Homo sapiens: one gene and its partners. The protein of the gene in region 3 interacts with the protein of the main gene of each other region in a biochemical or structural test. Each region holds a gene or a part of one and is shown on either strand. Other genes may lie near its edges.

Region 1 (3,747 bases), about 29 Mb from region 3:
TAACGTCTCTAAGCATCAGTTTTCCTCCTGTCAAACAGGCCTGATAACAGGAAGCTTCTTACTAGGCCATTGTGAGGGTAGAATGAGATAACACATGGAAAATATTTAACATAATGCCTGGCACAGTGAAAATATACAGTAAATGGTAGCTAGCACTGTATTCATTTTTTTTTTTTTAACAGAGTCACGCTTTGTCACCCAGGCTGGAGTGCAATGGCATAATCTTGGTTCACTGCAACCTTCACCTCCTAGGTTCAAGCAATTCTCCTGCCTCAGCGTCCCAAGCAGCTGGGACTACAGGTGTGCACCACCACACCCTGCTAATTTTTGTATTTTTTGTAAAGATGGGGTTTCACCATGTTGGCCAAGGCTGGTCTCAAACTCCTGACCTTGGGTAATTTGCTGCCTCAGCCTCCCAAAGTCCTAGGATTACAGGCATGGGCCACCATGACAGGCTGTGTTGTTGCTATCATTATTATTATTATTTCAGCTTCAGTAGTATAAATCCTAGATCCCCAAATCCCCACCTAGCAAAGACCTCTCACTCACACAGAAAGGGAGATGCATATGCACAGAGAACTCATCCTGCCTAGCCTCCACCTAGGGTCACTTTCTTCCTACTGCAGAAAGTAGGAAGATAGAGAAAGCAGAAAGTAATTCAAGATACTTTATACTGGGTACTCAATCTAAACTACCTGGGTGAGACTGTGTGTTTCAATTTCTCAGTACTCCCGTGGAACTGGGTTAATAAATATTTGCTGAGTAGAATTTACTGCATGCAGGCTGAGCTGTCTTAATGACCCAGCTGGCACTTCTTAAAAGAAAGATTAATTTTGGCCAGCGATAAGCAAATCGGCCATGTAATTATCTGTACATACATAGACAAAGAAAGAGAATGCTTGGAGTTGAGCCGTGCTAGAATATACCTTACACGCAGCCCCTCCCCTCCATAGCCACCACAAAGCACTGACCCTGTTTGGATGAGATATTGGAGCCCTAGCTCCAGGGTCCCTGATGTTGCCCTGGTATCAAGGCTCTTCTCTCTGCTCTGAGGCTGCCAGGCAGGGAATATAAGCCACCTTACTGTTGAGATTTCCCCACACTGATTGGCAGAAGCAGGAGGTGGTGAGGACCAAGCAGCTGGTCCAGTGGTTGCCTCTCATATTCATGCTCCCTATCCCAGGCTGGAATCTCATGGAGACCCAAGACCTCACCGCAGAGCTGGTTCAAGCTTCCACAGCGCTAAGGTGGCAGTGACACTGCGGACTGTAAGCTTTGGAACAAGGCTCAGTGGGGAGCTGGGAGAACCCAGGACCCCTTTCTGGAAAACCCATTGCCAGCTAGTCTCACACTTGGAATTGTGATCCCTTCTGTGACCACCTTGATAACAGCCACTCGCCCTGTTCCAGCCCCAGTCTCTGCCCCGCCCAGCTCTGCCCTGCCTAGACACAGCCCGGTGGGGCTTGGCGAGCCCTTGGGCACAGGAGCCTGTTAGTCCAGACAACGACTGTGCGCATCCGGGAGAACGGTTACTTTCTGCCATGTGCTGCAGCTCTAGCGACCTCGCCCAAAACTGCGCGCCGGCAGCCTGCCCAACAAACTTTCTTCTCTTTCTCTTTTTCTTTCAACCAAATGGTGCTTCCACAGACACATTCTCCAACGGTTTAGCGCAAATCCCAGCCCTGCTTTCCGGAGCCCAATGCACTTCGCAGACAGCTCACTTGACTCCAGTCCCCCAGGGCCGACTCAGCCGGAGGGGCTGCCGCCGGGTCCGCGCTGAGCACCCCGCACCCATCTTGCTGCCCAGGCTGCGGCGGGCACTCACCGATCTGCGCCAGGCTCAGCGGCACGAGGCAGAGTCCCCAGGCTGCGTGCCACCAAAACTTGTCCATGGTGTCCGGAGCGAACGGAGGGCGCGGGCGAAAGGAGCTGGAGGATCCCTGGGCGCGGGGCAGGGGCCGGCGGAGGACGGGACGAGGATGGCGGACCGAACCTGGCAGAGGCTGGGGTCCGCTGGGCAATGAGGCTGCCTCGGAAGTTGGCTGCAGTTTTTATTCGAGGTTGAAAACAGTGACCTAAGACGGAGGGAGGGAGCGAGCGAAGGACACACCCAAGCAAGGGGGGCTGTGACTAAGCAGCCCGCAGAGGTTTTAAGAAGTAGCAGCCCTCCCGGGCGGGCCCCTCTGCCCCCGCCCCGTGCTCTGCTGAGGCTGTAAATAATCGGGGCTGCCAGGGACGTGGGTCGGGGAACCTGGAGTGTCGCGGGGTGCCTGTGCCTCCGAGCCCCACTGGCCCCTGCGCCCAGAGACGCACTGGCTTTCTTCTCCCGCTGGCCCCGCGGCGTCAGGACAGAGGATGACCGAACCGTAAAACCTTGCACCATTGGGTTCAGCCTTTGGCCTCTCCTTTCCCGCTAAATTTCTCTGAATCCGGCTGGAGCAAGATCTCTGGGTTTCACAGGATGTTGGATATCCTGGGAGAGGAGCTGGAGAGAGGGCGAGGTCTTGCCCTGGGTGGCGCAGTGCCTCCGTGCCCACAGTGGGGAGTGAGGGGTGGGGAGTTGGTGAATCTTCCAAGTGGAAAGAGGGAGAGCTCATTCTTTTTCCCCTCAATAACAAGTCCACATGGCTTGAATGAATTTTAGCTTCTTGGCAGAACAGCTCAGGGAAAGCTACTGATGGCCTGTCATAGGGCTGGCATTTGGCTCAGCTAACCCATGTGTTCAAGCCAGTGTGAATGGGCACCTCTCTCCACACACATGCTCATTCATCCTCCTAAATATCCTTCCATCCGCCCATCCATCTATCCACCCATCTTTCCTTATGTCCTTCTGGGGCTCTCACATCCATCCATCCTCCTGTCCATCCACTAACCACTTAGGTCCATCTATCATCCCACTCATTCATTCATCCAACCACACACCTTTTAATTTATTCAACCACCTATTCTTCTATTCATCTTCCCATACAACTTCTCATCCATCATTCCACACTTCCTTTTTCACATCTCTTCATAAAACCACAACCATCCACCATCCTCTTCTCCACCCATCCACCCACATATCTGTTTATTGATATATCCACTCATTTCCCATCTGTCCAAGATCAACATATCCACCTATCATTTTATCCATTCTCTCATCCACCCATACGTTCATCTATTATTTTTGCCCCCATTATCCTCCTTTCTGTGTAAACATTAATTCATTTTCTCCCATCTTTCCTACCCAGCAGATCTTAAAGAGAGGAAGAGTTTGTAATATTCTTCAGGGGAAGCCTTTTGAGATTGAAATATCATACTTTGAATGATAACTCTATATCTATCTATAATATACTATGGTTTAATGTTTGGAAATCAAACGCAGTATTTATTTGTCATGTGAACTACTAAAAGTAAATCTGCATGGACTTCTTGCCTGGTGAGTTACACAGAAAATGAAAGTGATTATCAGTGGCTGTGGCAAGATGAAAGGAACCATGCCAGGACTTCTGAGGGAAGGTAAGATTTTGTTATTTATTTCAAGAAATTGAAAAGTTGAGAGAAATGCACCCAGCCATCCCCCTATGCATTCATTCATCAGACATGTAATGAGTGTTGTGGGGTATCGAGGTAAATAAGACCTGGCGCTATCTTCAGAGCCCTCACCCTCTGGTACGGAATAAAACTCACAAGCAGGCCATTACCATGCAAGGTGAAATATGCTGCAAAATGTGTGTGTTTGGGGTGCTACCATTCCTAGAGAAGGGA
Region 2 (3,747 bases), on a different chromosome or scaffold from region 3:
ACTTTCTGGTCAAAGCATTCTTATTCATTGCTGTAGGCATTGTTAACAGTTTAAAATTAGAATGTTCAGCATTTTCCTTCTAAAATATATTATTTTCCCAAGACTTTGATTTTGGAATTGTACCATACATTTCCGGATGTATCATTAGTCATAGGATAATTTTTTAAAAAGTGACTCTCTTCAATTCTGGTATGTTGTCCTTACACACGCAATCCTTTCCTTTTTAAATTGTTGTCCATGTATATCTTAGAATTAGTCAAAAGAATTTTTAAAACTGTAAAACAATAAACATTTTGGGAGAAGCACTTTGATCCCAGATCTTATGTAATTGTCATTATTTTTCACTATAAGCCAACCATATCTTTGACTCCACTGTCATATTTTTATTCTCTTAATATAATCAAAAAAGGAAAACATTCTATAGGAAGTCATTTCCTTATTATAATGCAATCCCAGATTCTATTTAGCTCATTTGGTTTGTTTGTTTATTTGCTTTCCCCGGGGGCAAAAATATGTTATTTTCTTATTCTGGCTTAAAAAATTTTAAGTCATAATTTCTGATTTCACCAGTAAAACTAAACAATTTTGGCTCTAGCCAGCTGTTGGGAAAACTCAAAAGAAATTTAGGTGCTACAGAAAGAGAGGTTAGTAATTCCAATTGTTCAGCTCTTGCCTTTAGAGTATTCTCTGAGTTGTGTTGGAGTATGTTATTGAGTTGCTGTGAACTACTGCTGCCAACTTCTACCCTAGAGATGGCTATATTTCAGAGATGAGTGAAATTATATTTGTAAACAAGTTTATAATCATTAATAAAGCTTACCAATTTAAGCTCTTCAGAAATACACATCCACTATTATAATTTTCTATTGTTTAATTACAACCTTTAATAGAGACATGAAGACTTTTAAAATGTATAAGAACTCTAAACTTAATTAAATTTGATTTCATGATGTTTATTTGGTTTTTGTAAGTTTCAGGTGTCAAATTATTTCTCCTTAGAGATCCTGGTGAAATTCCACCATTGACTGTTCCAACGTACTGTTTAAAAATCCCTAAGAATATTTTTCTTTAAAGTTGACAACTGTGCACTCTGGGATCCAGATGCTATATTCGCAGTACGATGATTTTGTTCTGTTTTCCACACATGGCCTTTTCATACACTGTCTCCCAGGGATGAAAAATTCTGCCTTGAATGAGAAGTTTTAAACCTTGCTTGAAAATAATAAACACGATACTTTACATGTTTATGGCCATTTAAGTTAAAAAAACGTGCATTTACATGTATCATATTGTTTTACTCTCAAAATTAGTCTTGTAAAGGGAAAAAAGGCATTAAGTAATTCAGTAAATTGTCTGCTGCATGCTAGCCACTATGAAGGGACTGCATGATAGACAAGGCAGTCCCAAAACTTAGAATTTCCTTGGGAAGGTAAGACACGAACAGAATTAACAGCAATGGGGTGGTACATAAGCGTCTCTTCCAATTGAGAAATAGAGGGGCAAAAGGAGATTTATGTGCCGCATTGTGCTAGGAAAGGCACATGTATTATCCCCTGAAACTCGAAACCCGTGTTTGGGGCATGGTCTCCACATGATTTGCACAGTCCACCACAGTGTGAGTCCCCACGGGGGTCCTTTTGACGTCGAGCCCATAGAGTCGTGATGGAGTCTTAGACATGAGGTAGAACTGGCTTTTTTACTCGTGAAAACACTGAGGCTCATGGAGGTGAAATGACTCGGCCAAGGTCACACACACTGATAGCGGCAGAGGCGCGGCCGGAACCAGGTCTTCTGATGCCAGCCCAGTGCCTCCCTACATCTCTACTCCCTGTGGAAACTATTTGCTTCCCTATCGCCCTTCGTCTGGGTGGGGGATGTCATTTTCAGTCAATTTACGGACTTTTCAAAAAGAGAAGGGTGGATAGGAGATTGGAGAAAAGTTTCCTTTCGGTCAGTGAAGAGGCCTGATTCGTTCCAACACCATTTATGGACCTGCTCCTGCCAGGCACTGGGCATCCAGGACACAGCGAACACAGATCCCCTGCCCTCAAAGACGCCCTAGTTAGGGGCGTCTCCGGGTCTTTGATGACCTCCTCTCACGAGCGGTCCCCAGCCCTCCCCAGGGCTCACCTGCCGGCCTCTGCAGGTACCCACGTCCCTAGGACCCGCCACTGGGCCAGGCCCAAGCAGCATCAAGCCCCGGGTCCCCGCCATTGCGCCCGCGTCGCGCGCCTCCAGTCGCCACGGCAACCAGGGAGGTGCTGACCCCTGACCTCGAGGCCCCGCCCCTTCACGTTCCCGAGACCAACATGGAGAAGGCCAACCCGGAAGTGCCGCCGCAGCCGCCCGCCCGGTGTTAGGAGCCGCCGGCCGGGCCAGGCCGAACCAAGCGCCCGCAGCCCTGCAGCCCGCTGCCCGCCCCACGTCCCGCCGGCGCCGGGGCGGCCGCGTTCCCCGCCCTCCCCCACTCCACCCCTGGCTACCCGCTCCCGCCCGAGAGGAGGAGCTGAGGCGAGGGGGAGGAGGAGGAGGGAGAGGTTTGCGAGAGGGAGCGAGGCCGCGTTAGCCGCCGGCGGTTCGTATTACCGGGGTCGGGAGGAGGAGCCGGGCCGAGCCTGCGGACGAACGCCGGGCGGGCGGGAGGCGCGGAGGCAGCGGAGGCTGCTCGGCCGCAAGGAGGCAGGCGGGAGGCCAGGGGTGCAGAATTGGGGCGGGGGCTCCCTTCACCCCCGCAGCCCTCCGCCCGGGTCCGTGTGGCCAGGCCTCACGTGCCCCGCAGGCCTGGGGAAGGTGGAGACAGGGGCGGGGGTCCGCGCAGAGGCCTGCACGGCGCGGCCAGGTGATGGTGGGCCTCTGTGTTTCTCCAGACGAAAGGGGACCCCCGGAGCGGCCGTGCCCCTGGGCTGCCCCCGCGAGGCGTTTTGACATCAGCCATAGGGAAGTCGGGGAGCCCTGAGCCTGCCTGTTTCCGTTAAGTGTCCTTAGGATGCAGTGATTAAGGAATTAGGCTCTCCCTCCGGGAGGGGCACTGCCTGTGCTAGGGAACTCGGGGGCAGAGAAACAGGACAGGATGATGCTGTCCGAGCAAGCCCAAAAGTGGTTTCCAACCCACGTGCAGGTCACAGTGCTCCAAGCCAAAGATCTGAAGCCAAAAGGCAAAAGTGGTACCAATGACACATACACTATAATTCAGCTGGGCAAGGAAAAGTACTCCACCTCTGTAGCTGAGAAAACCCTTGAGCCAGTTTGGAAGGAGGAGGCCTCTTTCGAGCTACCTGGATTGCTAATTCAGGGAAGTCCAGAGAAATACATTCTTTTCCTTATAGTTATGCACAGGTCCCTGGTGGGTCTGGATAAATTTTTAGGGCAGGTGGCAATCAATCTCAATGACATCTTTGAGGACAAACAAAGAAGGAAAACAGAGTAAGTTATGTAATTTATTTTGAATTTGGGGGAGTTTATATCTTATTTATGGTTTTTCTGTTCTTGGAAATTATCCGTATACTTCGGGCGTTGGTTTTTGGATTGAAATATGATCCAGTTTTAAGCACCATATTTGCATGAATCTGAAGTAAAAGTAGCACTCGTGATGAAATATTTTTTAAATGGAATCATTAATGATCCCTTATTCTTTCTGTTAAACATCTGTCAAATAATTGAATATTTTGTGGTGGATTTTAAGTAAGTTAACATTGTTTCAGTATGAGGACTGGATCACAGTATTGACCAACTAGAACTTCATATAAA
Region 3 (3,747 bases):
AGAGATGTTATTGGAGCTGGACTTTGGGAAGATTATTCTGACATGTCTGGTGCAGTAGGTTGGAGGGAGTCTAGGCGGGGAGACAAGCTCAGCAGCCTTGTGCAAAGCTAGCAAGGAAGAGAAAGGATAGGTAGGGTAGGGGTTGGGGATGAAGGTCAAAGGGCAGGGGTGAGGCAGGGGTTAGAGCTAGAGTGAGAAGCTTGGAGAAGATGGAGTCTATTTAGACGAGAGTGTGGACCAGGGAGAGACTGCTGGAACACCAACCACCAACTGCTTCCTCTCTCTTTTCCCTGCTTTCCAGACCCTGGCATTAGAGGTGATACCAGGCACAGGAATCAGCAACGTGTCTCCCTTTGGCCACCAGAGGGCAGATGATTCTCAAGGATCGAATTTGGGTTGGGGAGTGAGGTGTTCTCTGTCCTCCTCTTCTCTCTTTCCCTCACCTTCATGGGTGTGCCTTCACCTTCTTCCTCAACGGTTGGGTGCCTGAATAGAGCTGGTATGGGGCATGGGGAGCAGTGCTGAAGTCCCAGGATTTACTAAGAGTGTAGTGATACCTGTTGCCTTAGGAAGTACTTTCATACCCTGGTAATTACATCTGCTCAGATGCCTATTTCTCTGATTGATGGGATGAAGGCTGGCTCAAGATGCTGTAGCTGGGAGTTGGAGGTCAAGTAGCAGGGGTCCAATCAGCAGTTTTCCCAATAACTCCTGGAGCCTCTCTGCTCCTGTACCTTTGGGAACCTGTTGCCTGAGTCTGGTTTCTGACTCCTGCGGGGCCTCTGCCTCCTGCCCACCTTAAGCCACTGATGGGAGGGTGTGGTTCCAACGTGTTCCAGGTACTATGGGTGAGGACAGCTTGGCGCTGGGGAAATCAGCCCAGGATACTCCCTGTCCTTGGTAACGCAGTGTAAGGGGAAGTGAGGAATGGACTGCAGTTGCCATACAGACTTCCTGTTAGTCAAGGGCTCTCCAAAGCTGAGAAGGACCTCCGAGTTCATGAATCCAATGGCTTCACTTTACTGATGGGGAAAATGAGGCCCAGAGGAGGAAAGAAAAGAAACTTTAAATGCCTTATCTTGCAGAGGCATTTTAAAAGGTAACTGGAATTCAGAAATGTCATTTTGAATGTCAACGCAGGAGCAAAGGCAAAGGAAAGAGGAGCCTAAACTCAGTGATGTTATGTGATTTTTCCAAGATCACGCAGCATTGGCACTTGGCAGAGCTGGGGCTGAAATGCAGGGCCCTGGACGCTCCCGCATCCGGTGCAGAGGACGCTGCCCTGGGCCTGCCTGGGGCCTTGCCGAGCCCTGCGGACTAGATGCGGGAATGCACGGATGAATCCACAGAAGCCAAGATAGACGGTGGCAGACAGGCAATAGACTGATGCTGCATTTGACAGGTATATTGATAGGCTAGATGATAAAAAGAAGATGAATTTTATGAGCTGACCGACAGATGGACAGAAATGCAGACAGGAAGCTGCTATAGAACCAGAGGATGCCAATCACAGGGACGGCTAACAATCTTGTTTTGTATTTAGTCAAATCACAAGCACAGACAGGTGACCCACGCTTCCTGTTCAAGGTTTGAAAATGCCCGAAAACTGACGGAAAGACACGAAGCGAATCAGACTCCGAGAGCCACCCGGGGAAACGACCGGGTGCTCGGAGGGCCTCGGGTGTTGCCGGAAATGGCCGACGACCGCCCTCGGCAGGGCTGTGGGAGGGGGCGTGGCCGGCTCAGCACGCGGAGCAGCTTCGGGTATTTCCGGAAACTGCCGAAAGCCCCCTTGAAGTGGGCGGGGAAAGGCCGGTGGGCGTGGCTGGATGGCCGTGGACGGGGGCGGGGGGTAGGCACCCGGGGTCGCTTCGTGGATTTCCGTAAACAGAGCCGAAGCTTCGTCTTCGGAATCGAGGAGGAGAGCGCGTCCCCGGGGTTTACCTTCTTCGGCTGTTTCCGGAATTCACCCGTAGTCTGTGGCCGGGAGGAGAAGGCGCGCCCCACCTCCCGTTTCTAGCCGCTTCGGATGTTTCCGGCTGCTGCCGGCGAAAAGAGCCGAGGGCCGGCGGTGGTGGCGGCCATGTTGGGAGCAGCAGGTCCGGCGGCGGCTGCCTGTGTGCCGGGCGCGGAGCAGTGCCGCTGAGGGCAGGGGAGGAGCGAGGCAGGCGGCCGGCTGCGGCGGCAGAGAGTAGGCGGAGCGGCGCGGCCCGGCCGAAAGGCGGCACAGCCCAGCCGGGGGTCGGGGGGGTGCGGTCCGGAGCCGCTCGGAGCCGGCGCGGCCTAGCCCGAGCGGCGCATCCCCGGGCTGGCGTGAGCGGCTGCCCGGCCTCCCCGCACCCCCGGCCGGGGCCCATGCGGCGGGTGCTCCTGCTGTGAGAAGCCCCGCCCGGCCGGGCTCCGCGCCTTCCCTTCCCTCCCTTCCTCCAAGCTTCTCGGTTCCCTCCCCCGAGATACCGGCGCCATGTCCAGCGCTCGGACCCCCCTACCCACGCTGAACGAGAGGGACACGGAGCAGGTAAGGAGCCCCGAGGGCTCCCCGAATTCTCTGGCTGGGCCCTTTGCACCTTGCGGAGCCTCCTCCCTCTTCTGCTCTCCTCGTGCCCCTGCTGCCATCCTGCAAGCCTCGGCTGCCCTGTCATCCGGCTCCTGGCTCCGGCTCCGCACATCCCGCTTCCGAGTCCTGACCTGGGACCCACCTCGTCCTGACTCCAAGCTGCACACTTGTCTTTCTGCCAACCCCCGTCTCCCCTCACCGCCCTCCTGCGCTCTTCCGTGTCACCTCCCCAGCTTCCCTTTCTCTTCCCTTTTTCTCTCAGGGGCCTTTCTGGTCTTCCTCCACCCACGCTTAAAGCAGCCACCCTCCCGCTCCTCGAATAGCAGCACCCCGCGATTTGCCACAGATCGTTGTCCACCTCTCCCTTCGTCTCTCCTGCCTCGCTTCCCCTCCGCCCGCACCGGTTCTGCCAGTCTCTGGGTTATCACCCTCAGGGTCCTTGCCCTGGACTGCGCTCTCGATCCCTGGCCCCTTGCAGTTCCCCCAGCTTTTTCTACCCTGCTTCTTCGTTTTCCAAATTGTGCTCTCCCTCTTGCTTGCAACCCACCAGCTCCACCCTCATCACCTTTCCAAATCCTTCGCCTACTCTTTGCTCATCACTTTCCCTTCTTTGCTCCAGGAGCTCCCTGGATCCTGGCGCTGGCATTTGTCGCTTCCGTGTTTCCCCACAGCTGTCATGCGCATAGTTTTCCCACAGGTTGCGTTTGGGGTTCCAATCATCACTCCCTTCAGAGTCTTTGGATCCCTCTTGTTCTCTTCCCCTCGGGTTTGGCTTTTAGGTCCCTGGGCCTCTTGTTTCTCTCTGTGAGTGTTCTACCAGCCTTCTACTGGGCTCTTTCTCCCAACCCAAAGACACTTGGCCCCACCGTATTAACACAACCTGTTGCTCAGTCCTTTCCCAGACCTCGCTGCATCACAGTTTTTGCCTTTCTGTCTTCGTACGCTGGAACACAAACCATGATGACTTTCTGTGTCTTCACTCCCGTGCCTGGCACTTAGAGTATTTTCTTTCTTGCTTGTTGCCTTCCTGTTTCTCCACCCTCACCCCATCTTCCTTACTGTGCCTTTTAATCAGCGTTGCCTTTCATCTCCGCATTAGTCTCCTGCCTTCTTCATGTCCTGTGTATCCCCACACCGTGCTTGGATCCATTCTGTTCCTATTGGCTAAGTCTCTGTAATGCCCAGGAAGT

Evidence for each region.
Region 1: the proteins of MARK2 (region 3) and CD44 form a complex in vitro, tested with the Homo sapiens proteins (one study listed by BioGRID).
Region 2: of the proteins of MARK2 (region 3) and RAB11FIP2, one has a biochemical effect on the other in vitro, tested with the Homo sapiens proteins (one study listed by BioGRID).

Annotation. Positions count from the first base shown.
Region 1 is NC_000011.10:35,137,449-35,141,195, reverse strand, and holds the start of CD44 (CD44 antigen isoform 1 precursor), read right to left. Parts: upstream 2,026-3,747; 5' UTR 1,893-2,025; coding exon 1,826-1,892; intron 1-1,825. UniProt on the Homo sapiens protein: Cell-surface receptor that plays a role in cell-cell interactions, cell adhesion and migration, helping them to sense and respond to changes in the tissue microenvironment.
Region 2 is NC_000010.11:118,045,487-118,049,233, reverse strand, and holds the start of RAB11FIP2 (rab11 family-interacting protein 2), read left to right. Parts: upstream 1-2,292; 5' UTR 2,293-3,070; coding exon 3,071-3,423; intron 3,424-3,747. UniProt on the Homo sapiens protein: A Rab11 effector binding preferentially phosphatidylinositol 3,4,5-trisphosphate (PtdInsP3) and phosphatidic acid (PA) and acting in the regulation of the transport of vesicles from the endosomal recycling compartment (ERC) to the plasma membrane.
Region 3 is NC_000011.10:63,837,043-63,840,789, forward strand, and holds the start of MARK2 (serine/threonine-protein kinase MARK2), read left to right. Parts: upstream 1-2,067; 5' UTR 2,068-2,464; coding exon 2,465-2,518; intron 2,519-3,747. UniProt on the Homo sapiens protein: Serine/threonine-protein kinase. Involved in cell polarity and microtubule dynamics regulation. Phosphorylates CRTC2/TORC2, DCX, HDAC7, KIF13B, MAP2, MAP4 and RAB11FIP2. Phosphorylates the microtubule-associated protein MAPT/TAU.